Homo sapiens: one gene and its partners. The protein of the gene in region 1 purifies or fractionates together with the protein of each later gene. This does not show direct contact. Each region holds a gene or a part of one and is shown in the gene's direction. Other genes may lie near its edges. The genes, in order: RAB11FIP5, RAB11FIP1, C1orf198, DIPK2A, WDR47, KLHL8 and NENF.

Region 1 (3,500 bases):
CAAAGTGGATTGTCTTTGTGTCTATCCCGGGTCATCCTTGTGTTCCCTTGTTCCCCGCCCCCCACACTAACCATAGGACTCTATGCACAGAAGGGGATCAAATGTTGATTACAAAAACTTTTAAAGTTGGGAATAAGTGTGGTACAACATAGAGATGAGTGTATCATGATGGTGGCCTCTGGCAGTCTCTGCAGTGCCTCCCTGCACCAGGTGTGGTAGGCAACAAGGTCCCTCCCTGTGGGCCTGGAATGTGCTGTGGCAGCGGAAGGAGCTTGGCTGCATTCTTGGTGGTGTAAATGAGTAACTATAATGTGCTCCCAGTGGCTTGGAGTTAGTGCAGCCTCACGTCCTGCTCTCCTCATGTGCTCCTCACAACCATGCTCTTGTCATGGTTACTGTATTAACAGTGTTCTGGTTTGGAAGATAAATGATACGTTCTCCCTACTTACAGCTTACAAGGCCCCTGTCACCTCATTGTGCCCAGGTGATGGGAGAGGATGTACCCGTCTCTTGGACATGTTTCCTGCACGTTGGGCCCATCTCAGGAGGGTCAGGAGGTCGTGCCTCAGGATGGAAGGCTGAAGGGCAGTGTTGCTAGAGATGAACGTGCCTCCAAGGCTGGCTTCGGCCTTTGGGGGATTGCCTGGTAGAGAGCTTGTGCAGATTCACTTGCCATCTCTGGGACCAGTGTGTGGAAATAACAAGGACACAGAGCTCTTTTCAGCCCAAGGAAGAGTTGTCTGCTAGTGACACCTGGCCTTCAGCTACAGAGGTAGCCCTGTGGTGTAGTGTTTAAGAAGAGGGGCTGTCAGGGTGAACAGGTGGTTCCTGTGTTGAGTGGCAGGTTCAACCAATTGTTCAGAGCTTCCTGCAGGCAGTAAAGTTTTATTCCCTCAGGTTGAAGGGGCAGAGACATCTGGACTTCTGACTTCCTTCCCAGCATTTGATCCTAAAAGAGAAGACAAATCAGCATATATTGCTGCCCCCACCGCTTGGGGGTGGGGAGAGTGTGCCAGGCCGGCACAGTAGGTTCTAGGATGCAGAGGTGTTTATTTGTTCTCAGAGCATGACCTGCAAAGACAAGCATACGTGGGAATATGTTCCTGACCTGGGCCAGGTGGAGTGGGAGGGAGATGTTTTGAAGTGAGAACCTTCAGAATGTGCACTTGGTGTGGAGCAAGGAAGAGGAAGGCATGAAGGAGGGATGTGTTACCAGATAGGAGGATGGACAGATGCCCTCAGAAGTACTGCTGGCTCTGTAAAGCCTGCCAGGCCTGGTGCTTGGAGTCCCTTCCTCCAGGGAGAGCCCTTTGCTGATTCTATACAAACAGGTTTGTGTGTACCTCTGGGGAGCTGGCCGGGAGAGGGAGGTTGCCGAGCCTAACCTGAGGCTCCCAGTCTACTCCCCTGCCGCTCTTGTCCCTGCAGTTCTGACTGCCAGCCAGGTTGCTGAAAGACTGCAAGGGTGAGTGCAGGCCAGGTTAGGGCTGAGGGGGCAGAGTTAAGCGTAGTGCTTTTAATGTTGATGGGACTCTCTTCCTTCAGACCACTGTGGCCTATTGTCATAAAGGGGGCTGGGGAGAGAAGCAGCTCAGAGTGCTCTAGCCCTGTTCCTGGGGGCCCGGGTCCTGTAGACAGGGTTGGGCTGGGTGTGGTATGGATGCACTAATGGCAAGTGGGCTGAGGTCAGGCTCTTGACCTGGTGGTGGTGTATGTTGCTTCTCACTCCCCTTGGTCCCCACAGCAGGCATGTGTGCCTTGGCCTGGGGCTTGTCTGGAATGAAGGGAGAAAGGGCATCTGCTGGGGTTGAGGCTCTGGGCCCACGATTCTTCCTCTTTTGGTATCTTCACCATGTCCATAGAAGCAGGGTAGTAGTGGAAGCCCAGGTGGGGTGGGAACAGGTGGGAATTTTTACCTCCCTCTCCCTCCATCTTTAGGTGGAGGGGATGAGACTGAGAATTTACCTTTGGATGGGGAGTTATTGTAAGGGGAAAAATAGGGTCAGGAGACTCTCGGGAAACTGATTCTTACGAGAAATCCCTGGGTTTGGGACCTGTGAGGCTGACCTCCCTTCTCCCAGAACCATCTTTGGAGCTACCTGTGCCTCTGTTTAGTTGGACTCCTTCCTGTGGTCCGCCCCTGGTGGTAGCTGCCGAGCTGACCTGCCTCAGTCCACCTCTGTGTGGGTCTGCCCTCTTTGGGCCCTGGGTTCCTGGGAGAATCCGGGCAAGCTCCAGACAGCTCATGCTCTTTCCACAGGTGCCCTTCCTACCCCAAGCCACACTCCTTATGGGCTGGCTGGCCAAAGCCCGGCTTCTGCCCCTTCAGGACTCACTGTCTACATTTCCTGTGCAAGAAGCTGGTTGGCTTGAAAAGTCGGATGTGTAGGGGTTTCCCCAGGATATTTCCACCTGGACAGGCAGGAGCCAAGGAACAGGGGTCCTGGAAGCTTAGAGCCAGGCCTGGGAGACCAGCCATGAGGAGGGAGACTGCTTAGAAGGCAGAGGGTGAGGCCACCGAGGTCTGCCTCTGACGGTGGCTCAGTGGCAAGGCAGCCATTTTTTCTGGCCTTCTGTCTGGGTCCTAGGGAAGTGAGAAGCTCTAGTTTGAGAGCACGCCCCTGCCCGCATCTCTGGAGTCGGCCTCACTCTGTGGATAAGCACCAGTGCAGGGGGCGTTTCCCCCAGAAAGGACCCTGTCCTGGACAGATGAAGGCCAGAACCTGTTCTCCAGTGTCCTAAGAGCACCTGCCCTGTCCCCGTCCCCAGAGTCCCTGAGAAGCCCCTGGTGACATCCAGAGTTGCTGCTGCTGTCACACTGCCAGCCTTGGCAGACAAAGGCTGGACCATCAGGGCACCTTTTGGTTGACGTTCTCCACAGGTGGCTTATATTCCTTAGCCAGTTAGGCTGCCCCTCAAAGAAACAAGACACCTTGTCACACCCAATGACAGCCCGTCATTACTTCTGCTTCTGCAAGGGATCAATAGAACCCAGGCTGTTTCAAGTGTCAGAATTCTAGGTGCCCTGCTAGGTCCTATAAGTTCTGGTTTTGTCCAGCCAGATACCTAGGCCTGGCCTTTCTCTGGTCTCTTTATCCCCCCATGCCAGCTGGTGTTTTCTTTGCTTTTAGTCCTAAAAGGGGCCAGGCTTAGTGGCTCATGTTTGTAATCCCAGAACTTTGGGAGGCCAGGTGGGCAGATCACGAGGCCAGGAGTTCGAGACCAGCCTGGCCAACATGGTGAAACCTCATCTCTCCTAAAAATACAAAAATTATTCAGGTGTGGTGGCACACACTGAGGCACAAGAATGGCTTGAGCCTGGGAGGCAGAAGTTGCAGTGAGCCAAGATCGCGCCACTGCACTCCAGCCTGGGCAAGAGACTCTATCTCAAAAAAAAAAAAAAAAAAAGGGATGTAAGGCGCTTTCAGATTAGTTTTCCCAGATGTAAATTCCTTGTTGAGTAGAACCTTAGAAGCTTCAGCATGGGATAGAGGAAAGAA
Region 2 (3,380 bases), on another chromosome or scaffold:
AAAGGGATTGAACTGCATCTGCATGTCTGTCCTTTGAACACTTTCTCTCCCTGCCCAAAAGGAAACCCAAATTATTTGTGGGATACTGGGGAAATTGTAGTGAAGGGCTTAATGTAGTTAATAAAAGTTAAAAGTCAGTAGAAAACAGGTGCCTCAGCCTTCAAATGGTTGCTTTTTTTCCATTTTCCCTCATGAATAGACTCACCAGCATTTTACCCCCTTGTTATAAAACTGTGCAGAGCAAGAAGATGATACTTATTTTTGAATTTGTATTTTTAAAACTAGATTTATAGACTTTTTTTTTTTTTAACTAGGGCACTTGCTTCCTTCTTAGCTAAAAGCACCAGCTGAGATTTTTCAGGTAATTTTGTTGTTACTCACTTAAGACTGGAATTAGAATGTTTCTGGTATTTCTCATTTTTTTCCCTGGCTATGATAGAATCTCATCTAATCTTGACATCTCTCCTAGGGGAAGAATATCACAGGCTAATAGCGTGGTTGGGGGTGAAGATGATAGCAGTTATTAAATCAGGAATCTCTTTTATGTGTGTCCTTGTTACATTGAGGTTAAGAGACAAAATCATTGGCAGTGCAATCTCTTTCCAGGATTTCGTTTGCTGTGGCATTGGTTATATCAGAGCACTTTAATCTGAAGGATGATACTGTAACTTGATTTATCTAATTAGCTTTTAATTATCTACAGCTATTTTATTTTATTTAATTCTCTCCTACAGTACTGGGACCACTGTAAACTTCTCAGATGACTTGTATTTTTGTAGTGCTATGAAATTTATTTACATACTTATAAAGAAAACTGTATGTTCACTTGAACTCTGAAAATGTACATGTATGGCTGGACGCGGTGGCTCACGCCTGTAATCCCAGCACTTTGGGAGGCTGAGGCGGGTGAATCACTTGATTGAGGTCAGGAGTTCGAGACCAGCCTGGCCAACATGGCAAAACCCCGTCTCTACTAAAAAATACAGAAATTAGCTGGGTGTGGTGGCAGACAGCTGTAATCTCAGCTGCTCGGGAGGCTGAGGCACAAGAATCGCTTGAGCCAGGGAGGTGGAGGTTGCAGTGAGCTGAGATCACATCATTGCACTCCAGCCTGGGCAACGGGCGAGACTCTGTCTCAAAAAAAAGAAAGAAAGAAAAGGTACATGTATATATTTGTCCTGCATTATGTTTTTTACTTGATATAAATGTATTTTTACTGTGATAGTCCAAGTGCCCTGGGGGGCAGGTGTGCTCTATGTGGTTCTTCTTCCATTGGAGAGCTGGCGTAGAGATCTGCAGTGTTCACAAGGATGTTGGTTTGGAGATGTCTGCTGCTAGGACCTGGGGTGTGTGACTCAGTCCATATGAGAGGGACATCTGGGTGGAGGAGTAAATTCCTGTGCTCTGAAATGCCACTTGGTAGCTCTGGACAATGAAGGACAATTGACTCAAGGGTGCCTGGCTTCTGCTGCTGCTGGGAAAAAATTCAGTTTATAGCATTCCTGCACCTCCCAAAGTAGATAACCTGGAGGTCATTCAGTTAACAACTGTCCCTGAGGACTCAGTTTTGGGGGAGGGGTTATCTGGGAGAAGCTTTAGCCTGTTCTGAGCCATTAGGAGACATTAGTGAATTGGAGCACTGGAGAATCCTACAAATGGCCTATGTCTCAGAAGAGCTGGGACCTCCTTCCAGCTGCTGCAGATGCTGACAGGCCCTGGGAGGCTGCTGTGCTCTGGAGAAGCTGGAGCAGCTCATTTCTTGGCCTAGCCTGGCTGCCTCAGAAAGAGCAGTCAGGACTTGAGGGAAGCATCAAATTCTATACCCATAAACTGCAGTTGGAAGTCAGCTTTTTGAAATGTCCAGCCTTTGCCCAATTGTTTCAGATCATCTCATGCCTCAGGCTTTGGCAGGTATCCTGCCCTCCATCTTATTCCAGTGTGTTCACCTCATCAAGGCAGCAGAGTGGATGAAGGAGTAAGTCTGCCCTTTGCCATACTGAACAGCTGTGGACCCCGATTGGTGAGGGCTCTGCATATGCCTGTATGAAGGAGATACAGGTGTGTGTGCACATGCCGGTATGAAGAAGACACAGGCATGTGCTTCTCAGTTTTGCTAACAGTGGGAGCTCAACGGGGCAGAGGGAGGAAGGTCCATGATGCTCAGCCACATACTGTAGAGAGAGGCAATTTAATGTTAAATGACGCACCATCCTCCCTCCCACCCTTCTCCCAGTCAACTTTTTTTCTTTTTCTAGAACTACTAATTATCTCTCAAGGCTGAAAAATTAATTGCCTTAGGTGGAGAACTTAATTCCTAGTATCCACCAAACTTAACTCCGTATCTCCATATGGTGTCTCCATATCTACTGTGTGAGCTACTTAACTGACGCCCTCTTCCTCCAACTGAAGGATCGCCCAACGTTTTTGGATTATAGAATTATTATTTCCTGCTTTCTTTCTTTGGGACTTTTGAATTTCTTTGGTTTCGTTTTTAAGAAGTAACCCAACATTTCCTACAACACTAAATAAAATGGTACTTACCTTTCAAAGATTTGTGTCTGTAGTTTGGTATGGGTGCAATAAAAATTTATTTTGTCTTCCTGGAAAACCTCTCTTGGTGGGGGTGGGGGGATGACCAGTGTTTCTCATCCCATGAGGGTCTCTCACTGGGATTTCTGTTGCTGCCATCTTGCCTGGTTCCCAGGAGTCCCAAGGCCCTTTTTCTCAAAGAGGACGGACATGTCTGGTCCCTTCGGATGCACCCTTCATCTTGGCCTGAGGGACCATGGCACTGGCCAGAGAAACTGAGTTGGAACGTGCTGCCCCCTTTTCCTTTGCAGCCGGTACCCTTGGCTGAGCATTTGGACAGGGTCTTTCCTCAGTTCCCACCCCCACCACACACACAGGTTCCCACAGAGTGATGTCTTCACTTTGGGGGCATGAGTTGAATTCAGGCTGGGCTCAACTGCCCCATCTGGGAACCAGGTCCTTGTTCAGTTGACTTAGTTTGTCCATGTGTGAATAGAGGGTATTAGGGATGCACAGGAGTCTCCTGGAGTTCATCTCTCCAAACCCCAGGCCTTTCCCAAGGAGGTGAGAGGTGTGCCTGCCCCGCGAGCGGTGCACGTGGTCCACACTCCAAGGTCCCAGACCTCTTGGAATGGAAGTGATACCTTTGCTCTTAGAGATGAGTCACATTGTAGAGAGACAGAGGCAGGCGGTGCCTGTGAGACTCCTGGGCTGGGATGGGGGAGCTTCCCTGAAGGCCTCCCTGGTTTTGGTGGAGAGGCCTGGTGATTCCAAGTGGACATCGACTGCCATGTGTAGTGACATGAAGACACTTAATAAATTTTATTTTATTTATTAAATCTCTTAATAAA
Region 3 (3,500 bases), on another chromosome or scaffold:
CACATGCTCTGCTCTCTAAGCCTTATTTCTCTAGCTTATAGAATTTCTCAGTTTACATTTCTTACCTTCAAGCCAAGATGCCACAGGTGTCAACCAGAAACTCTCCTTATTTATGGATTTCAGGAAGACGATGACCATTTCTGGCATCAATACGCGTGTTGCCGTGTTCCAAGATCCTGATGCTGTTTTAGAATCACCCCAGAAAGCCCCTCACTCCCCGCCTAGCTGTTTTTCCTGGAACAGCTTGTGGAGGCCCTAAGGGAGCCCCCATGCTGGACAGCTCCCTCTGCAGGCGCTATCCATCCACACACCAGAAACACTTGCAGAATGTGATGAATATCAGGATGTTTGTTATGGTTGTAGCCTGTGGTATGCTGGAGCCGGCTCTGGGGGAGTGAGGCGAACTAGCCCTGACTTCTAGCATTTGCTGGTTGCCATGACCAGATACTCCACCATGGCCCGTTGCACGCTGTTGGCGTGACTCACGGGATGCATATCTGGGCACCGCGCTATATGGTATTTCCACCTTACACATACAATGGATGCAAACAACCTTAAGACCATGGATAATAGTAACTGTATTGAAATGATGAGTTTCTAGTGTTTATTACTTTTTTTGGGGGGGGCACACTTTAAAAAAATTCAGTTTTTACAGTAGTTTTAGGTTCCAGCAAAATTGAGCGGAAAGTACAGAGAGTTCCCACACAGACCTTTCCCAAAATGTACACACAGACGTGCATATGCACACAGCCTTTCCCACCACCAACATCCTAAACCAGAGTGGTGCACTGATTACAATCAGTGAACCTGCATTGTTTTTATCATTGTCAACCGAAGTCTCTGGTTTACACTAGGGGTCGCTCTTGGAGGTATACGCCATGATGGTATCATACAGAGGGGATCCATTGCCTTAACAGAAATCCTCTGTGTGCCACCTGCTCATGCCTCCCGCCCCCCAGGCTCTGGCAGCCACTGATCTTTTTACTGTCTCTGTAGTTTTGCCTTTTCCAGAATATCATATAGCTGGAATCATACAATATGTAGCCTTTTTAGATTGGCTTCTTCCACTTAATAATATTCATTTGAGGTTCCTCCATGTCTTTCCATGACTTTTTATTGTGGTAAAATACATACAACATAAAATTTACCGTTTTAACCACTTTTCTGTGTATAGTCCGAGGCATTTAGTACAGTCTCAATGTTGTGCAATCATCACCACCATCCATTTCCAGAACTCGTGTATTATTTAAAGTGAAACTATATCCTTTAAACAATGAAACTCTGTATATATTAAACAATAACTCCCCATTTCCTGGCCTCAGTCTCTGATAACCTCTATTCTACTTTCTGTCTCTATGATTTTGCCTACTCTAGGTACCTTATATAAGTGGAATCACATGATTTTTATCCTTGTGTCTGGCTTAGTTCACTAAGCATAATGTCTTCAAGGTTCATCCATGTTGAAGCATGTATCAGAATTTCCTTCCTTTTTAAGACTGAATAATATTCCATTGGATGGATAGACCACATTTTGTTTATGCATTCATCATCTGTCAGTGGATACCTGGTTGCTTTCATCTTTTGGCTATTGTGAATGGCACAGCTATAAACATCGGGGTATAAGGATCTCTGAGCCCCTGCTTCCAGTTCTTTCGGGTGTATACCTAGGAATGAAATTGCTAGAACAAATGGTAATTGTATGTGTAATTTTTTGAGGAACTGCCGAACCGTTTTATATAATGGCTGCATCATTTACATTCCCACCAAGAGTGCACAAGGGTTCCAGTGCCTCCACATCCTACCAATACTTGCCAGTATCTGCTTTTTGATAGTAGCCATCCTTGTGGGTGTGAAGTATATTACCTTTATTTTTAATACAATGGACTTAATTGCAAGTTTGTATAATTCACCTTTTTAATCACAGCAGTTAAACAAGATATTTAACAACAGGTTCAAGAAATTCCTCAAAATTTTACAATCAGCTCTCGTTAGTTGGTGCAGGCCTGCTCCAACACACCTCTGGTTGCAGCCTTGCAGCCTCCAAAAATAAAAGTGTCTAGGAACCACAGAGTTCTTAAGCCCTCCAGTATCCATTTTTTTTATCAACAAGTAAAGAAGTAAACGCTGGCGATATGATGCAAACATGTATTCCAGCACTATGAGCAAAAAATATATGTTATTATTTTTAATTCTGTTTCATTTAGGATTTAGGAGGTGCACACTGAATTGAATGAACATTTCCCAGAGAAGAGCAAATACTCAAGGTCTCTGGGATGTTAGGGAAAAAGATTGTTTGTGTGTGTGTTTATCCCGGAGTCCTTGGAGCTGCGTGGGGACTGGCAGAGCCTCTTACATGTAGCGCTGGCCTCTGATAATTGCCAAGTGCTCTGTGTTTCTGGTGGCTTTCTATAGCTTCCCCCCTGCTTTTTGGCTTTCTGCTCTGGGATTTGGTGACCTGGGGCATCTTTCTGTTCTGCACTCCAAAGAAGTCATTGTTTCTGGAGAGATTCAGTGCTGCCCATTTGGTATGGATGCCTCTTACGGAATTTGACTCTGAGGATAAGTCCTGGCCAACAATGAAGCCCACTCTCTTGTCGTGTGGCCTAAGTAACAGATGTGTTTTGACACTTAGATGATTTCAGATCCTAGGCGCCAGAGAGGGGGGTGGGAAAGCCTTCCAAGCAGTCCTAGAAAAAGCATATGTGATTGGTCCAAAAGCATGTGCCTGGCCTCATTTTGGTTGCAGGCTGGTCACCATGGGAGTAGAAGAAAGGACAGCATTGTATGCGTGTGAGTGGGTGCCGCCACTTTGCAATTCTGATTCCATTTGCATCCAACAGCCCAGGGAGCCTGTTCTTGCCGCCAGTGCTTTTTTGTGGCTAGAGCGTGCAGTCCACGGCTGACATCAGAGCTTCCATCACATTTTTGTTTGGCATGTTTATTTTTGTTAAGCACTTTATTGTTTTTTATGAGCTCAGAATTACAGAAACCCAAGGAATCTGCCCCTTGACTTCATTTCTTGCTGGAGCAAACAGAAGACTATTGACTCGACACTAAGTAGGGGAGAAATCACAGTGTGACCCTTTCTCCTCCTGTGACCCCCTTGGAATTTCAGCTAATATGGGTTGCAGTCACTGGAGAGTTGACTGTCCCCAAGCTCTGGGCTAAGTCTTCGTTCCTCAGAGTGTTGTATTGAGCCACCTTCCAAAGCCAAAAGCCTTATTATTTTAATCTTTGCAGATTTCAAAGGGACTTAAGGTATATAATTAATATTTAGAATCATATCGAGTAACAGGGGAGTCCAGCTCCATCATGCCCCACCCTGGCCAGTCAGTGGTCCTGCCCTCTGCCTGCCCCGCAGGTGTTCATGCACTTCCTCTTTCCATTTGGGTGGCCAGTGGCCTGTCTGATTCTGGATGGAAGGAGCACCTTTGCCAGTTGATTTCCATTTACCTTTTTCGAAAGATCCAAAGCTGGATCTCTACTCTACCCTGTGGATG
Region 4 (3,500 bases), on another chromosome or scaffold:
ATTTTAGCTTTATAATGTAAAGTTCTCTATTTAAATTTTTTTCAGGTCCATAGTACTGGTATGAGTTAGGAAAAAATGAAGTTAATCTCTAATAAACTGTTGAATGTAATAAGAAAATCCAAAGTCATTCCTAGTAGCAATCTCTACTGAAAGGATCTGAGGATAGACCTAGGATATTTTCATCAGAATCTCTTGTAATATTAAGATAATTCTTTTGTAGAGTTTTCCGTCTGATGAAGGTTGGCCATTTGCAAAGTATCTTGGAGCTTGTGGAAGAATGGTGGCTGTAAATTATGTTGGAGAAGAACTGTGGAGTTACTTTAATGCGCCATGGGAAAAACGAGTTGACCTCGCTTGGCAATTAATGGAAATAGCAGAACAGCTTACAAACAATGACTTTGAATTTGCACTCTACCTCCTGGACGTCAGCTTTGACAATTTTGCAGTTGGTCCTAGAGATGGGAAGGTAATCATTGTGGATGCTGAAAATGTTTTGGTTGCTGACAAAAGATTAATTAGACAAAGTAAGTATATAATTTTAGATTTTTTTCTACTCATTTTTTCCTATGTCAAAATAATGTTTATACTTGTATGAAATGAGCCTTGAATTTCCTCCTTAGATGGCAACTTTAAGCGTCTTTCTTTGCTTTATATGACCACTGTCAATAAACAAATACAGATACTCTTTGACTTACTGGGGGTTACATCTTGATAAACCCGGTGTCAGTTGAAAATATTGTTATTTGAAATATATCTAACCTACGGGACATCATAGCTTAGTCTTGCCTACCTTAGACATACTCAGAACACTTACATTAGTCTAAAGTTGGGGGAAATTGTGTAAAACAAAGCCTATTTATAATAAACTGTTGAATATAATTATATTCATGTAATATATTGAATTCTGTACTGAAAGTGAAAAACAGAATGGTTGTATGGGTTCTTGAAATATGGTTTGTACTTTATTTTTAACCATTTTGATGATCCCTGGCACTGCAGCTCTGAGTTTGGTTTGACATTCTGATTATTACATCTCACCCAAAACTTTGCTCTCCATTTACTTTTGAGTTCTTCATGGGATAGATGAGTAGTGTCTGAAGTGTTTTGAAAATTAAATGCCGGCCGGGTGCGGTGGCTTACGCCTGTAATCCCAGCACTTTGGGAGGCCGAGGCGGGCGGATCACGAGGTCAGGAGATCGAGACCATCCTGGCTAACACGGTGAAACCCCGTCTCTACTAAAAATACAAAAAATTAGCCGGGCGAGGTGGCGGGCGCCTGTAGTCCTAGCTACTCGGGAGGCTGAGGCAGGAGAATGGCGTGAACCCCAGGGGGCGGAGCCTGCAGTGAGCCGAGATTGCGCCACTGCACTCCAGCCTGGGCAACAGCGAGACTCCGTCTCAAAAAAAAAAAAAAAAAAAGAAAATTAAAGAAAATTAAATGCCATAGAAGTTGTAAAGCATCAAGAACAAAGCCTGTAGGTCTAGAACCAATTCAGTTAGCAAAACCAAAGGGTTGTTGCTCCATGGTGAGGGTTTTATATTTTTTAATCCCCTCTTTCCCCCTGATAAAAGTAATATGAGTATCTTTTGACAAACAAAGGCTGAAAATTTACGGCACCTGGGGAAAAGTTTATGTGACAGCCATATATTAGGTTGACATTTACTTTTTGCATGATCTTGGCATGATCCTATTAAATACTTGATTTTTCCCACTCCCTTTTTCAGATTTTATACTTACCAGACCACTTTTCTGATTATTTCTTGACTTGCCATGTAGATCCTCCTACAGGAAGTGAACACCCTGCTGGAGTATTCTACTCTCTATTTACCTCTTCCTACATCTGTGAATATTGTAGCAGCGTATACTATTCTTTCTTTTTTAAAGTGTACACAAGCAGGTGGTTTTTAGTATATTCATAGAGTTGTGCAATTTTCCTAAGCTTAAAAAAATTATTTCAGTGTTTATAACAATAATTTTTTATAATTCATTTTATGCAGACATTCCTGGAATAATTATTACTAATTCCTGACCTTAGATGAATCCAGCCATATAGCTTCTGTATTCTTCCATTTCATACAGTGAGCATTGCTCTAGTGCTGCTTTAACTGTGGTCATTTCTTTTCAAATGTCTCATGGGTCCTCTAAATAGTCACTTTGCAAAAGTCTCTGTCTGTTCATTTACTCTCTTTTCTTTCCACTTTCTAGTAAATGACCTTTATTTTATTTCTTCACAGGGAAATTGAGATTTTGCTGTGGCAACTCCCCCAGTGTCCTTTATCATCTAAACCTCATTAAAACAGCAACAGATAGATTCTTCTTTGAGAACTTGTTACATCAGTTATCTTCTTCAGTGTCCCACCTCCTTCCTTTAATATCCAACTTCTCTTGCCTTCCTATAAAAAGTATATATAAGACTCTCTTCTGCTTCTCCTTGCTTGTCCACTGTTTTTAAAAGTATTTATTGCCTTTCTGCTTCCTCAGCCTCTATTCATTCCTTAGTCCATTAAAACCTGACGTAGACCTCTGCCTTGCCATTAGCAACCACCTAATTGGCAAATTTGTGAAGTGATTGTGACTAGTATCAACTTCTCGAAGTTGTTTCCTCCTTTGGAATAGTAACCTTCCTTCTTTTGGAATAGTAACCTTCAAAAAACATTAACTTACTACTCCTTTGCTTAAATGGTTCTAATGACTTCCCATTGTTCTGGAAGTAAAATCCAAACACCTTAAAGCCAGGGCATAATCTGTAATCTGTGTGACTTGGCCCTCTTCTGATCCTTTTTTTTTTTTCTTTTTTGAGACAGGGTCTCTGTCACCCAGGCTGGAGTGCAGTGGTGTGATCACGGCTCACTGCAGCCTTGACCTCCCTGGCTCAAGTGATCTTCCTGCCTCAGCATCCCAAGTAGCTGGGACTACAGGCACATACCACCATGCCTGGCTAATTTTTAAATTTTTTGTAGAGGGTGGGATCTCGCTGTGTTGCCTAGACTGGTCTCAAACTTGTGGGCTTAAGCAGTCCTCCCACCTTGGCCTCTCAAAGTGCTGGGATTACAGATGTGAGCCACCCCGCCCAGCCTGTGTATATATGTGTTTTTCGAGTGCTTCATTTTTAATACCCCTCCATCTATTGCCCTTGGTGCTTCTGCTACAATGGCCTCTTGTTTTCCTGAATGAATCGGCCCACTTCTGGGCATTCCCAGTTTCCTCTTCCAAAAATGTCTCTTCCTTCTTCCCTATACAGCTAGCTATTTGTTTTTCAAGCCTTGACTCCTTCAAGTACATGTGTGCTTATGTGTTCTCAATTTGCCTAATATCCCTCTTACCTCAAAATCATAAGTTTCAAGTCTAGTTCTAGTTGTACATATGACATGCCCACCTAATACCTTATAGCTCCTTTATATTTATTTTGTTTATATATAAAATATTGACACTATTATGGCAATTGTACATACCTTGTCATCCAATTAGAACCTTAAACTTTACCCATATACTTAATTAT
Region 5 (3,500 bases), on another chromosome or scaffold:
AAATGGCTTCAGATGAATATTATCACAAGTAGGAGTTTCTTCATATAGTATGTTTAACATAATTGATCTCAGTGAACTTTCCAATATTTATTTATTTATTTATTTATTATTATTGTTATTATTTGAGATGGGGTCTCGCTCTGTTGCCTAGGCTGGAGTGCAGTGGCGTGATCTCGGCTCACTGCAACCTCCGCCTCCCAAGTTCAAGTGATTCTCCTGCCTCAGCCTCCCAAGTAGCTGGGATTGCAGGTGCACATACCCCCACACTTGACTAATTTTTGTATTTTTAGTAGAGACAGGGTTTCACCATGTTGGCCAGGCTGGTCTTGAATGCCTGACCTCAAGTGATCCACCCAGTTCGGCCTCCCAAAGTGTTGTGATTACAGGCGTGAGCCACTGCACCTGGCCTGTTTATTTATTTTTTGAGACAGGGTCTCACTTTATCGTTCAGGCTGCAGTACAGTGGCATGATGATAGCCCACTGCAGCCTCAAACTCCTGGGCTCAAGTGATCCTCCTACCTCAGCCTCCCGAGTAGCTAGGACTACAGGTGCTTGCCACCACACCTGGCTAATTTTTGTATTTTTTGTAGAGATAGGGTTTTGCCATGTTGCCCAGGCTGGTGTTGAACTCCTAGACTCAAGTGACCTGCCTGCCTTGGCTTCCCAAAGTGCTGGGATTACAGGCATGAGCCACTGCACCTGGCTCGATATTTTTTAAATTACTGAAATATTTTCAAAAATAAGTAAGCTTATTCCAAAGTAAATTTTTATACTTCACAGCACAGTAGCTCTCCCGCAGCAATTCATTAGCAGTCCTTTTGACACATTGTCCTTACCAAGGCTAGGAGCTCTGAAGGGAAGGAATTTACATTTATTGAGCACCAGTTGCATGCTTGCCACTCTGCTAGGAGCTTGTTCTCATTTTACAAGTCAACATCCTGTTTTAACTGAGAAATAGTACTGGGCTGGGCGAGGTGGCTCATACCTGTAATGCGAGCATTTTGGGAGGATGAGGTGGGAGGATTGCTTGAGCCCAGACGTTTGAGACCAGCCTGGGCAACATAGTGAGACCTCATGTCTACAAACAATTAAAAAAAAAATGCTAGCTGAGTGTGGTGGTGCACACCTGTGGTCCTAGCTACTGGGGAGGCTGAGGTGAGAGAATCACTTGAGCCTGGGTGGACAAGGCTCTACCAGCCTGGGAGACAGTGAGACCCAGTCTCAAAGAGAGAGAAAGAAAGAAAGATAGAAAAAAATAGTACTACAAGCAAAAAGACATAAAAATTTTATACTATTTATAATTACTAGTTATGTAGTATGCTTGACATATGTAACTCAAATAATGTTTTTTTCCTATGGCTAAGTACCATGTTTTGTGACTCTTGTTGTTGTGATGAAAAAGAAAATGGAACCTTTTATAAAATCTTTTGAGAAAATTTTATAGAATTGGGTTGGTTTTTTTTTTTTTTTTTTTTGAGACGAGGTCTCGCTCTGTCCCCCAGGCTGGAGTGCAGTGGTGCGATCTCAGCTCACTGCAAGCTCCGCCTCCCAGGTTCATGCCATTCTCCTGCCTCAGCCTCTCTGAGTAGCTGGGATTACAGGCGCCCGCCACCAAGCCCGGCTAATTTTTTATATTTTTAGTAGAGACAGGGTTTCACTGTGGTCTCGATCTCCTGACCTCGTGATCTGCCCACCTCGGCCTCCCAAAGTGCTGGGATTACAAGCGTGAGCCACCACGCCCAGTCTTGTTTTGTTTTTTGTTTTTTTTTTTTTAGACGGAGTTTTGCTCTTGTTGCCCAGGCTGGAGTGTGATGGCGTGATGTCGGCTCACCGCAACCTCTGCCTTCCAGGTTCAAGTGATTCTCCTGCCTCAGCCTCCCTAGTAGCTGGGATTACCGGCATGTGCCACCACGCCTGGCTAATTTTGTATTTTTGGTAGAGACGGGGTTTCTCCATGTTGGTCAGGCTGGTCTTGAACTCCCAACCTCAGGTGATCTGCCTGCCTCGGCCTCCCAAAGTGCTGGGATTACAGGCGTGAGCCACCGCACCTGGCGATTTTCTTTGAAACTTTAAGAAGAGCTTTGGAAATGAAATTCCGGGAAGTGCAAAAACAGCATTTCACAAATAGATGATGATATAAAGAAATTTTAGGTGTATTCATTGTAAAGAGCCTAGATGATGGGAATTGTTAGTTTCACTGTATATAGTTCTTGATCAGACCACACCTGGAGTGTTGTGCTTTATTATTTATTTATTTATTTATTTTGAGATGGAGTCTCACTCTGTCGCCCCAGGCTGTAGTGCAGTGGCATGATCTCGGCTCACTGCAAGCTCCGCCCCGGGGTTCACGCCATTCTCCTGCCTCGGCCTCCTGAGTAGCTGGGACTACAGGCGCCTGCCACCACGCCCAGCTAATTTTTTGTATTGTTAGTAGAGACGGGGTTTCACCGTGTTAGCCAGGATGGTCTCGATCTGCTGACCCCGTGATCCGCTTGCCTCGGCCTTCCAAAGTGGTGAGATTACAGGTGTGAGCCACCGCGCCTGGACTATGTTTTTTTTTTTTTTTTGAGACGGAGTCTTGCTCAGTCGCCCAGGCTGTAGTGCAGTGGTGCCATCTCGGCTCACTGCAACCTTCACCTCCTCCTGGGACTACAGGCGCACGCTACCAAGCCCGGCTAATTTTTGTATTTTTAGTAGAGACGGGATTTCACCATGTTGGCCAGGATGGTCTGGATCTCCTGACTTTGTGATCCACCTGCCTCAGGCTCCTATAGTGCTGGGATTACAGATGTGAGCCACCGCGCCTGGCCTATTTTGGGTTCTTTAGGAGGGGGATTAACAGATATTTAGAGGAGGATGACGGGAGTGGGAAGGGATCTAGAAGCTATCTTCTGGTGAAGAATGGTTTTTGTAAGGATCGATTAGACAATGAATGTAAGATCCTAAAATAGTACCCAGTAGTTTTTGCATTGTAAACAAAGCAGTTAATCCTGTTTTGGGGATTGTACTTTAGTTGGTACCTTTATAGATTAAAACCTTTGAGATCTAATCCTTTAATATGTATATATTTTTCATTTTCATAGTTCTTTTTTGCTTTAAAATTAAAAATTGAGCCAGGCAAGTTGGCATATGTCTATAGTCTTAGCTACTCAAGAGGCTGAGGCAGAAGAATTGCTTGAGCGCAGGAGTTTGAGGCTGTAGTGTGCTATGAACAGGCCCGGCAATAGCAACTACACTGTAGTCTGGGTAGCATAGTAAGACTCCTTCTCTTAAAAAAAAAAAAAAGAAGATACAAAATTAAAAATTGGCTGGGCATAGTGGCTCATGCCTGTAATCCCAGCATTTTGGGAGACCGAGGTGGGTGGATCACCTGAGGTCGGGAGTTCGAGACTAGCCTGGCCAACATGGTGAAACCCCGTCTCTACTAAAAATGCAAAATAGCTGGGTGTGGTGGTGGGCGCCTGTAATCCCAGCTACTCGGGAGGCCAAGGCAGGAGAA
Region 6 (3,500 bases), on another chromosome or scaffold:
TGCAGTGAGCTGAGATTGCGCCGCTGCTCTCCAGCCTGGGCAACAGAGCAAGGCCTTGTCTCAAAAAAAAAAATTTTTTTTTAATTTTAAAGTATGTGTATATATATATATGAATATGATATGTGGTTAATTTGGAATATGAAAATTACCTGACTTTAAGAAACTGGCCTACTTGAAAGTAAGTGATCAAAGGATCGCCTTATAAAAAGATACTCTAAATTTGTCTGGAAATTTTGTCCCTGCTACAAACACATGTTAAATGCTGACCTGAAGCTGATTTTGATATTAAACAGAATCTTTCTTGGTTTCTTTTGAACAGGTTGGCTCAAAGCTAATCTCTTGTCACAAGCTGGTATTGGCTTGTGTTATTCCCTACTTTAGAGCCATGTTTCTTTCTGAAATGGCTGAAGCCAAGCAAACGCTGATTGAGATTAGAGATTTTGATGGTGATGCAATAGAAGACTTGGTAAAGTTTGTCTATTCTTCACGGCTCACTTTGACTGTTGACAATGTCCAGCCTCTCTTATATGCAGCCTGTATTCTGCAGGTTGAACTGGTGGCTAGAGCTTGTTGTGAATACATGAAGTTACATTTTCATCCCTCCAATTGCCTGGCAGTAAGAGCCTTTGCAGAAAGTCACAATCGAATAGACTTAATGGACATGGCGGATCAGTATGCCTGTGACCATTTTACTGAAGTAGTGGAGTGTGAAGACTTTGTAAGTGTATCACCGCAGCACCTCCATAAGCTTTTGTCCTCCAGTGATCTAAATATTGAAAATGAAAAGCAGGTCTATAATGCTGCCATCAAGTGGCTTCTTGCCAATCCTCAGCATCATTCCAAATGGTTGGATGAAACACTTGCACAGGTAGGAGCTGAAATAAGATTTCACACAGAAATGAAGTGATATGGAAGCAAATCAACATGCTTCATTTATTAGGAAAAGTGTAGATTATTTCAAGGAATATAGAAATTATTGATGTAATAAATAATAGAAATGGCTTTTAGCTCTCTAATTTTCCTGTTAACTTGCTGTGCTGTTTCAGGATGAATCTAAATTTGTCACATTTGAATTAGCAATATCATTCTCTGCTTTTAACCTGAATATTTAAAATATTCCTTTGGGATACTAATGATGAATATTTTATTTATGCCAATAGAAAATGGTTTGAAGAAATAGCTCTAAATTAATATACTTTATAATTATTGTTTTATAATGGTTTCTAAATTTTAATGAATTATTTTGCTAATAAAAGTATAGTTATTCCTAATGTGGATAGATTTATTATGTAAACAACCATAGGACATCACTTCTATTTTCTTCTCTCACCGTAGTTTGACTTTTTTTAAACCTCAGAAATGTGTCTCATTGTTACTGTTCTTATTTTTTACTGTCAATAGGAGTTACCAGGATAAGAAGATTATAGGCCCTTGTGATCTTTTTTTCTTTTGTCGTCTTCCTCTCCTTTCTCTCCCTTCCCTCCTTCCCTTCCTCCATTTTTTCCTTTCTTCATTTATTCCTGAGAAGTAAAATGACATTTTGCTACTTAAAAGAAGAGTGTTCTTATTTACTTATTTTTTCTAAATTAAATGCTTTGTTAAAACTTAGTGCTTGATAAAAGCACTCAGTGATAATTCTCGTGATTTTTAATAACAAAGTTTCCTAATAGCATTATCAGAAACTTAAACAAATAGTAAGAAGAATGAAGAAGAATGAAAGTGCTTATAATTACCAGTGTTCTCATTTTAGATATTTATAGGCAGATGAAGTAAACCTATTCAGAGTATGATGATAAGACATTTTTTCAAGTGCATATCACAATATTTATGCATTCATATGAGTATCAAAGTTCAGAACACATTTACATCTTCTCAGAATTATTTTGAAAGTAAGTTTGTCAGCAAAGCAAATAGAAAGTTTCATTATCTTGCAGCTATATCTTATTTGTGTATATGTGTTTTTCTTTAAGATGGTAAGGCAGATTTCGTTCAAGGGGGGCCATAACAATAGATACAGGGACTGCTGCAACGAAGTCTTGCAGTTGGGGAGAGAGACTGGACTCAACCCCTTACGTGTGTGTGTGCTTTTAACTCAAAATAGCATTACCTGGTTTCATCATCCCCTTTAATCCACTGGAAAATCAGTGTATCTTTAATAGAGGAATGGTGAATGCCTCTGTTGAAAGAGGGGATGCATCCCTAAGTTAGTATATTCCCTTCCAAGATCATTAATTTGAAGAAAACAACACTTGTTTCAGATATGAATTTTTACATTTTTAAGTAAGAAATCACATTTCCCTATGTTTAATCTTAGCTTAAAAAGGCAAAAGAACAAAGCACAGCACTTTTGTTTTGATTGTGCCTTTATCAATAGAAGGGCCTTGTGATTATGTCAGTACCGTTTTTGGAAGTAAGCAATTTGAATGAAGACAATTCAATTATAAAGCCTATTTAAACCGATATTTAAAGTGGGTGGATATAATTTAACGTGTAGTCTGATTGCATTTGAGCAGACCAGTACTGGAAATTGCTTATAATTTGGCACATTGAAAATCATGAACATGTTACATTTCATGAAGTAACAACTTAAGTTTTAAAAAGAGAACATGCTGCAGTAGAAGTGGAGAATTACTCATCTTGTTTTCACCTTTATTTGATACAATTTTTAGACTTTATATTTTCCCAAGAAAATATAAAATTTGTTGTATTGCAACTATTCATGATCTTAGGTTCGCCTGCCATTGTTGCCGGTTGATTTTCTTATGGGTGTTGTGGCAAAAGAACAGATTGTCAAGCAAAATCTAAAATGTAGAGATTTACTGGATGAAGCAAGAAATTACCACCTTCACTTGAGTAGCAGAGCAGTACCTGACTTTGAATACTCCATTCGGACTACCCCAAGGAAGCATACTGCTGGTAACCAAATTATTTTGTCAATTCTCCTGGAAGGATCTTTGTTGTATTTGAGGGTTGTTCATGTGTGCCCAAACTTAGTTGTAATATAATTAGTGTCTGATTGCCTTAAAGTAATAATTGGCAAATACGGTTTTATATATTTATAATTTTTACTGTACATTATTTAGTTTTACCAATAAGCCAGTTTTTTAAAAAGCCGTAATCAGTCCTGTATACTCTGAAGAGCCTACTGAAATATCTCTTCTTTTGAGATCTTTCCCGATTCTGAACTTGGTTTACTATGTTGCATTGTCATTTACTCATTTGACATGTCTTAAGTTCTTCAAAGACAGCTGAGTATCTTATTTAGGTTTCTATCCCTAGGGCCAAGCATGGAACTTGAAATATATTGTGCATCTAAATATTTGTTTTTTCATTTTACCAAATAAAAAGGGCACTAAACATAGCTAACATTTGTATAATGGGTTATATTAAACTCTTAGAGTCTAAAGCCCTTATATTTTAGGAGGCAGGCAGTTTCACCTTTATTTGATACAATTTTTAGACTTTATAATTTTTCCCAAGAAAATAGTTCATGTTCGCTT
Region 7 (3,960 bases), on another chromosome or scaffold:
TTTAGTAGAGACGGGGTTTCACCATCTTGGCAAGGCTGGTCTTGAACTTCTGACCTTGTGATCCACCCGCTTCGGCCTCCCAAAGTGCTAGTATTACAGGTGTGAGCCACCACACCTGGCCTTCCTTCCATTTTAAATGAGCAGATTGAGTTAATCTTTGTCAGTGTTTTACTTCAGCAGGGGCTTTTTTCCCCTGATAATGACATGCTTCTACTCAAAAGCCTTTCATGACTTTCCATTGCCTGTAGAATTAAATTCAAACTTAATGATTTACCCTAGTTGAAGCAATGAGAGAAGTGTTCTTTAGTAAAGAGTTGGCATTATAGAACATTACAGAACATTTTAGTGCCATTTAATGTAACTACTAATGATATCTTGGAGATAGTTTTGTATTGGTTTATCTATTATTTGATAACAAACACTGCTGAATGGGAATAGATTTGGCTTCCACCAACATTTAAGAAGAGGGAACATTTTTCTTGTTTGCATCTTTAATTTTTTTTTTGGAGACAGTCTCGCTCTGTCGCCCAGGTTAGAGTGCAGTGATGCGACCTTCTCCAGCTGCCAGGTTCAAACGATTCTCCTGCCTCAGCCTCCTGAGTAACTGGAATTACAGGTGCACGCCACCATGCCCAGATTTTTGTATTTTTAGTAGAGATGGGGTTTCACCATGTTAACCAGGCTGATCTTGAACTCCTGACCTCAAATGATCTGCCCATCTTGGCTTCTCAGAGTGCTGGGATTACAGGCGTGAGTCACCGCACCCAGCCTGCATCTCTAATATTTTTAAGAGACTATTTTCTCAGTATTAACACTTAGGTGAAAAAACAGAACGAGAAGGGGGCTAGGCACAGTGGCTTATGCTTGTAATCCCAGCGCTTTAGGAGGCCAAGGTGGGCAGATCATGTGAGCTCAGGAGTTCAAGACTAGCCTGGGCAACATGGTGAAACCCCATCTCTTCAAAAAAAAAAATACAAAAATTAGCTGGGCATGGTGGTGGCACATGCCTGTAGTCCCAGCTACTCTGGAGGCTGAGGTGGGAGAATTGCTTGAACCCGGGAGGTGGAGATTGCAGTGAGCCAAGATTGTGCCACTGCACTCCAGCCTGGGCAAGAGTGAGACCCTGTCAAAAAAAAACAACAACAAAAGAGGTTGTAGGGGTACTATTCTCATTTTATATTTTCTGAAAATCCCTGCTCAGCCTGCATGTGTGACTTACTTCACATTTAGAGTAAGTGGAATCCAACCTGATGGCTGGGGTGGCTTACTGGACTTTGTATCGCCATTGTTTGGCCTCTCCGTGAGCGTGGAGTCTTTTTTAGGATTGGGTGCGGGCCTTGGGAGCGCCCCCACGTGCAAGCTCCTGGTTACTCTGCATGTAAACCCACGCTTACGTCTCTTCCTTCCTTCCCACTACAGAGTTTTATGGACGAGGAGCCCCCTACAATGCCTTGACGGGGAAGGACTCCACTAGAGGGGTAGCCAAGATGTCCTTGGATCCTGCAGACCTCACCCATGACACTGTGAGCCAGATTATAAGCCTTTGTAAAATCCTCTACCTCCTTGTCCATGCCTTTTTCTCTTTTTCTTTTTCTTTTCGTGTGTGTGTGTGTGTGTGTGTGTGTGTGTGTGTGTGTGTGTGTGTGTGTATCTGGGCAAGAGCAAGCCTTCCTAATTAGCTTATTTACCCTTCGGTCCACTTGGTATGGTGGCCAGGCATTTTCTTGAAATAGATTATCCTACCATGTCATCTCGACTCAGAAACCTTCCATGGCTGTCTGTTGCCTAGAGTCAAGTCCAAACTCTTATGAACTTGTGATCCAACTCAGTGATCATCACAATTTGGCCCCAACCTGCTTTGGCAACCTAATGCTCCTTATGGTCTGTACCTGCCACCCCATCCCCTCAGCCCCTTACAGCCTTGCTATTAGTCTCTGAGACCCATTCCCCAGGCCATGCTTGGTAGCTTTGTGGATGAACTGGGTTGGGAAGAAAGGTCTCCCTCTATGCTTATATTTCTGTGAAGGAGAAGATAGCATTAAAACATTTTTTAGGCCAGGAGTGGTGGATCATGCCTGTAATCCCAGCACTTTGGAAGGCAAAGGCAGGTGGATCACCTGAGGTCAGGAGTTTGAGACTAGCCAGGCCAGCATGGAGAAACCCCGTCTCTACTAAAAATACAAAAATTAGCTGAGTGTGGTGGTGCACACCTGTAATCCCAGCTACTTGGGAGGTTGAGGCAGGAGAATCGCTCGAATCCAGGGGGCGGAGGTTACAGTGAGTTGAGATCATGCCACTGTGCTCCAGCCTGGGCAACAGAGTGAGACTCCATCTCAAAAAAAAAAAAATTTGTTTTTTAAACCTATTCAAGGTCTAAATAATTCCAACAGTAAGGCTGGAATTTCCTCTAACTGTGCTCAACATCAAACTGACATTGAGATAAATTGAGATGAGCCAAACTCATAACAAAATGAATGTAACAATATTACAAAAATGAATGAAGAACTTAAGAAAGGGGAAGGTGCCAAATGTATAATGGGAGGAGTGTAGAGAGAGGGATAATGGGAGCAGTGTAGAGAGAGGGAGGATTAATCGGGGGGAGGAAGGGGATGCAGATGCAATAGGGCATGCCCTGCCCCACCCCAGCATGCTCTCTGGAGTCTTTCATCCCTTCCATCAGTCAAACCACAAAGTGTGATGAAGCATTGCTCCCCGTATGTTATACCCTCCCACCCCCACGCCCCCCCCACAGCAGTGTCTCTTAAGCCATTTGTCCATTATTTGGTTTGTTGAGATATCTTTTCTCTTGCATTAGGGATGTGGGAGGCAAGGCAGGGATGGAGAAAGGCCAGTGCCAAACACTATCCACTTAACCCCATCTCCTGTCTTTCTTGGGCTTTTCTCCCCAAGACGGGTCTCACGGCCAAGGAACTGGAGGCCCTGGATGAGGTCTTCACCAAAGTGTACAAAGCCAAATACCCCATCGTCGGCTACACTGCCCGGAGAATTCTCAATGAGGATGGCAGCCCTAACCTGGACTTCAAGCCTGAAGACCAGCCCCATTTTGACATCAAGGATGAGTTCTGATGTTCCCCCTGCAGGAGCAGGTTCTTGGGAGCGTGAGGCAGGAAGACACTAGGTGCTGAATCTCCTGCAAAACTGGCTGCCTGGAGGCCCTGAGCCACCCAGATCTGAATAAAACAGATGCTTACCCTGGAAGAGCAAATGCCTCCTGTTGTCCTTGGTCAGGGGTTCTGTCTACCTGGGGACCCCTGTCTGCACACCAGGGATCAATAAGAGCCAAAGTGGGACACCTCCTAGATGTCAGTATCAGCTGGCTGGGCAGTGGAATTTTGAGCGACCTTTACTTTATACTTTTCTGTGCTTGACAGATTTTCAGCCATGACCATGTTCACTTTATAATCAAAACAAAAATAAAGGTCCCATTTTTACAAAAGGAGAATTCTTCCCCAGAGGCCATTTCCTTGGAGCCCACATAAGCGGGTGGGCTGTGTTGTTCTTCCATAGTCCTGCGGGGCCGGATGGTGGGGCATTTAGGCAATGGGCAGGAAAAGAGAGTGGTGAGGTGGGAGGGTGGGCGATGGGAAGGGAGCCAGGAAACCCGGCTGGAGTGAGGGTGGGAACTGGCTTCAGTGCACGTGCAGCTGGAGATTGGTGAGGAGGGCCGGGGTCAGTGTGGGCAGAGCCTGGTGGAGGTCATTCCAAGAACGGGAGGCATATTCCTTATGCTGGACTGAGGTCAGATTTTAAGAGGAAGCCCCTTTTGTTAGAGTGGGCAGATTTTTCCCTCTGGGGACATTGGGTGATGTCTGGCAACATTTTTTTTTTTTTAATTTTTGTCTGTCATGACTGCAGGATGCTACTGGCATCTCGAGGCCAGGGATGCTGGTCAACATTCTGTAATGCACCTGACAAAGCATCATCCGGTCCGAAATTTCA

The links.
Region 2: the proteins of RAB11FIP5 (region 1) and RAB11FIP1 purify together in Homo sapiens (affinity purification with western blotting; one study listed by BioGRID). This does not show direct contact.
Region 3: the proteins of RAB11FIP5 (region 1) and C1orf198 fractionate together in Homo sapiens (co-fractionation; one large-scale study listed by BioGRID). This does not show direct contact.
Region 4: the proteins of RAB11FIP5 (region 1) and DIPK2A purify together in Homo sapiens (co-immunoprecipitation; one study listed by IntAct). This does not show direct contact.
Region 5: the proteins of RAB11FIP5 (region 1) and WDR47 purify together in Homo sapiens (affinity purification with mass spectrometry; one large-scale study listed by BioGRID and IntAct). This does not show direct contact.
Region 6: the proteins of RAB11FIP5 (region 1) and KLHL8 purify together in Homo sapiens (affinity purification with mass spectrometry; one large-scale study listed by BioGRID and IntAct). This does not show direct contact.
Region 7: the proteins of RAB11FIP5 (region 1) and NENF fractionate together in Homo sapiens (co-fractionation; one large-scale study listed by BioGRID). This does not show direct contact.

Annotation. Positions count from the first base shown.
Region 1 is NC_000002.12:73,081,949-73,085,448, reverse strand, and holds part of RAB11FIP5 (rab11 family-interacting protein 5), read left to right. Parts: intron 1-3,500. UniProt on the Homo sapiens protein: Rab effector involved in protein trafficking from apical recycling endosomes to the apical plasma membrane. Involved in insulin granule exocytosis. May regulate V-ATPase intracellular transport in response to extracellular acidosis.
Region 2 is NC_000008.11:37,858,118-37,861,497, reverse strand, and holds the end of RAB11FIP1 (rab11 family-interacting protein 1), read left to right. Parts: 3' UTR 1-2,880; downstream 2,881-3,380. UniProt on the Homo sapiens protein: A Rab11 effector protein involved in the endosomal recycling process. Also involved in controlling membrane trafficking along the phagocytic pathway and in phagocytosis. Interaction with RAB14 may function in the process of neurite formation.
Region 3 is NC_000001.11:230,858,522-230,862,021, reverse strand, and holds part of C1orf198 (uncharacterized protein C1orf198), read left to right. Parts: intron 1-3,500.
Region 4 is NC_000003.12:143,985,323-143,988,822, forward strand, and holds part of DIPK2A (divergent protein kinase domain 2A isoform a precursor), read left to right. Parts: intron 1-220; coding exon 221-524; intron 525-3,500. UniProt on the Homo sapiens protein: May play a role in cardiomyocyte proliferation through paracrine signaling and activation of the PPI3K-AKT-CDK7 signaling cascade.
Region 5 is NC_000001.11:109,035,603-109,039,102, reverse strand, and holds part of WDR47 (WD repeat-containing protein 47), read left to right. Parts: intron 1-3,500.
Region 6 is NC_000004.12:87,182,619-87,186,118, reverse strand, and holds part of KLHL8 (kelch-like protein 8), read left to right. Parts: intron 1-319; coding exon 320-868; intron 869-2,729; coding exon 2,730-2,916; intron 2,917-3,500. UniProt on the Homo sapiens protein: Substrate-specific adapter of a BCR (BTB-CUL3-RBX1) E3 ubiquitin ligase complex required for The BCR(KLHL8) ubiquitin ligase complex mediates ubiquitination and degradation of RAPSN.
Region 7 is NC_000001.11:212,442,920-212,446,879, forward strand, and holds the end of NENF (neudesin precursor), read left to right. Parts: intron 1-1,419; coding exon 1,420-1,523; intron 1,524-2,910; coding exon 2,911-3,087; 3' UTR 3,088-3,460; downstream 3,461-3,960. UniProt on the Homo sapiens protein: Acts as a neurotrophic factor in postnatal mature neurons enhancing neuronal survival. Promotes cell proliferation and neurogenesis in undifferentiated neural progenitor cells at the embryonic stage and inhibits differentiation of astrocytes.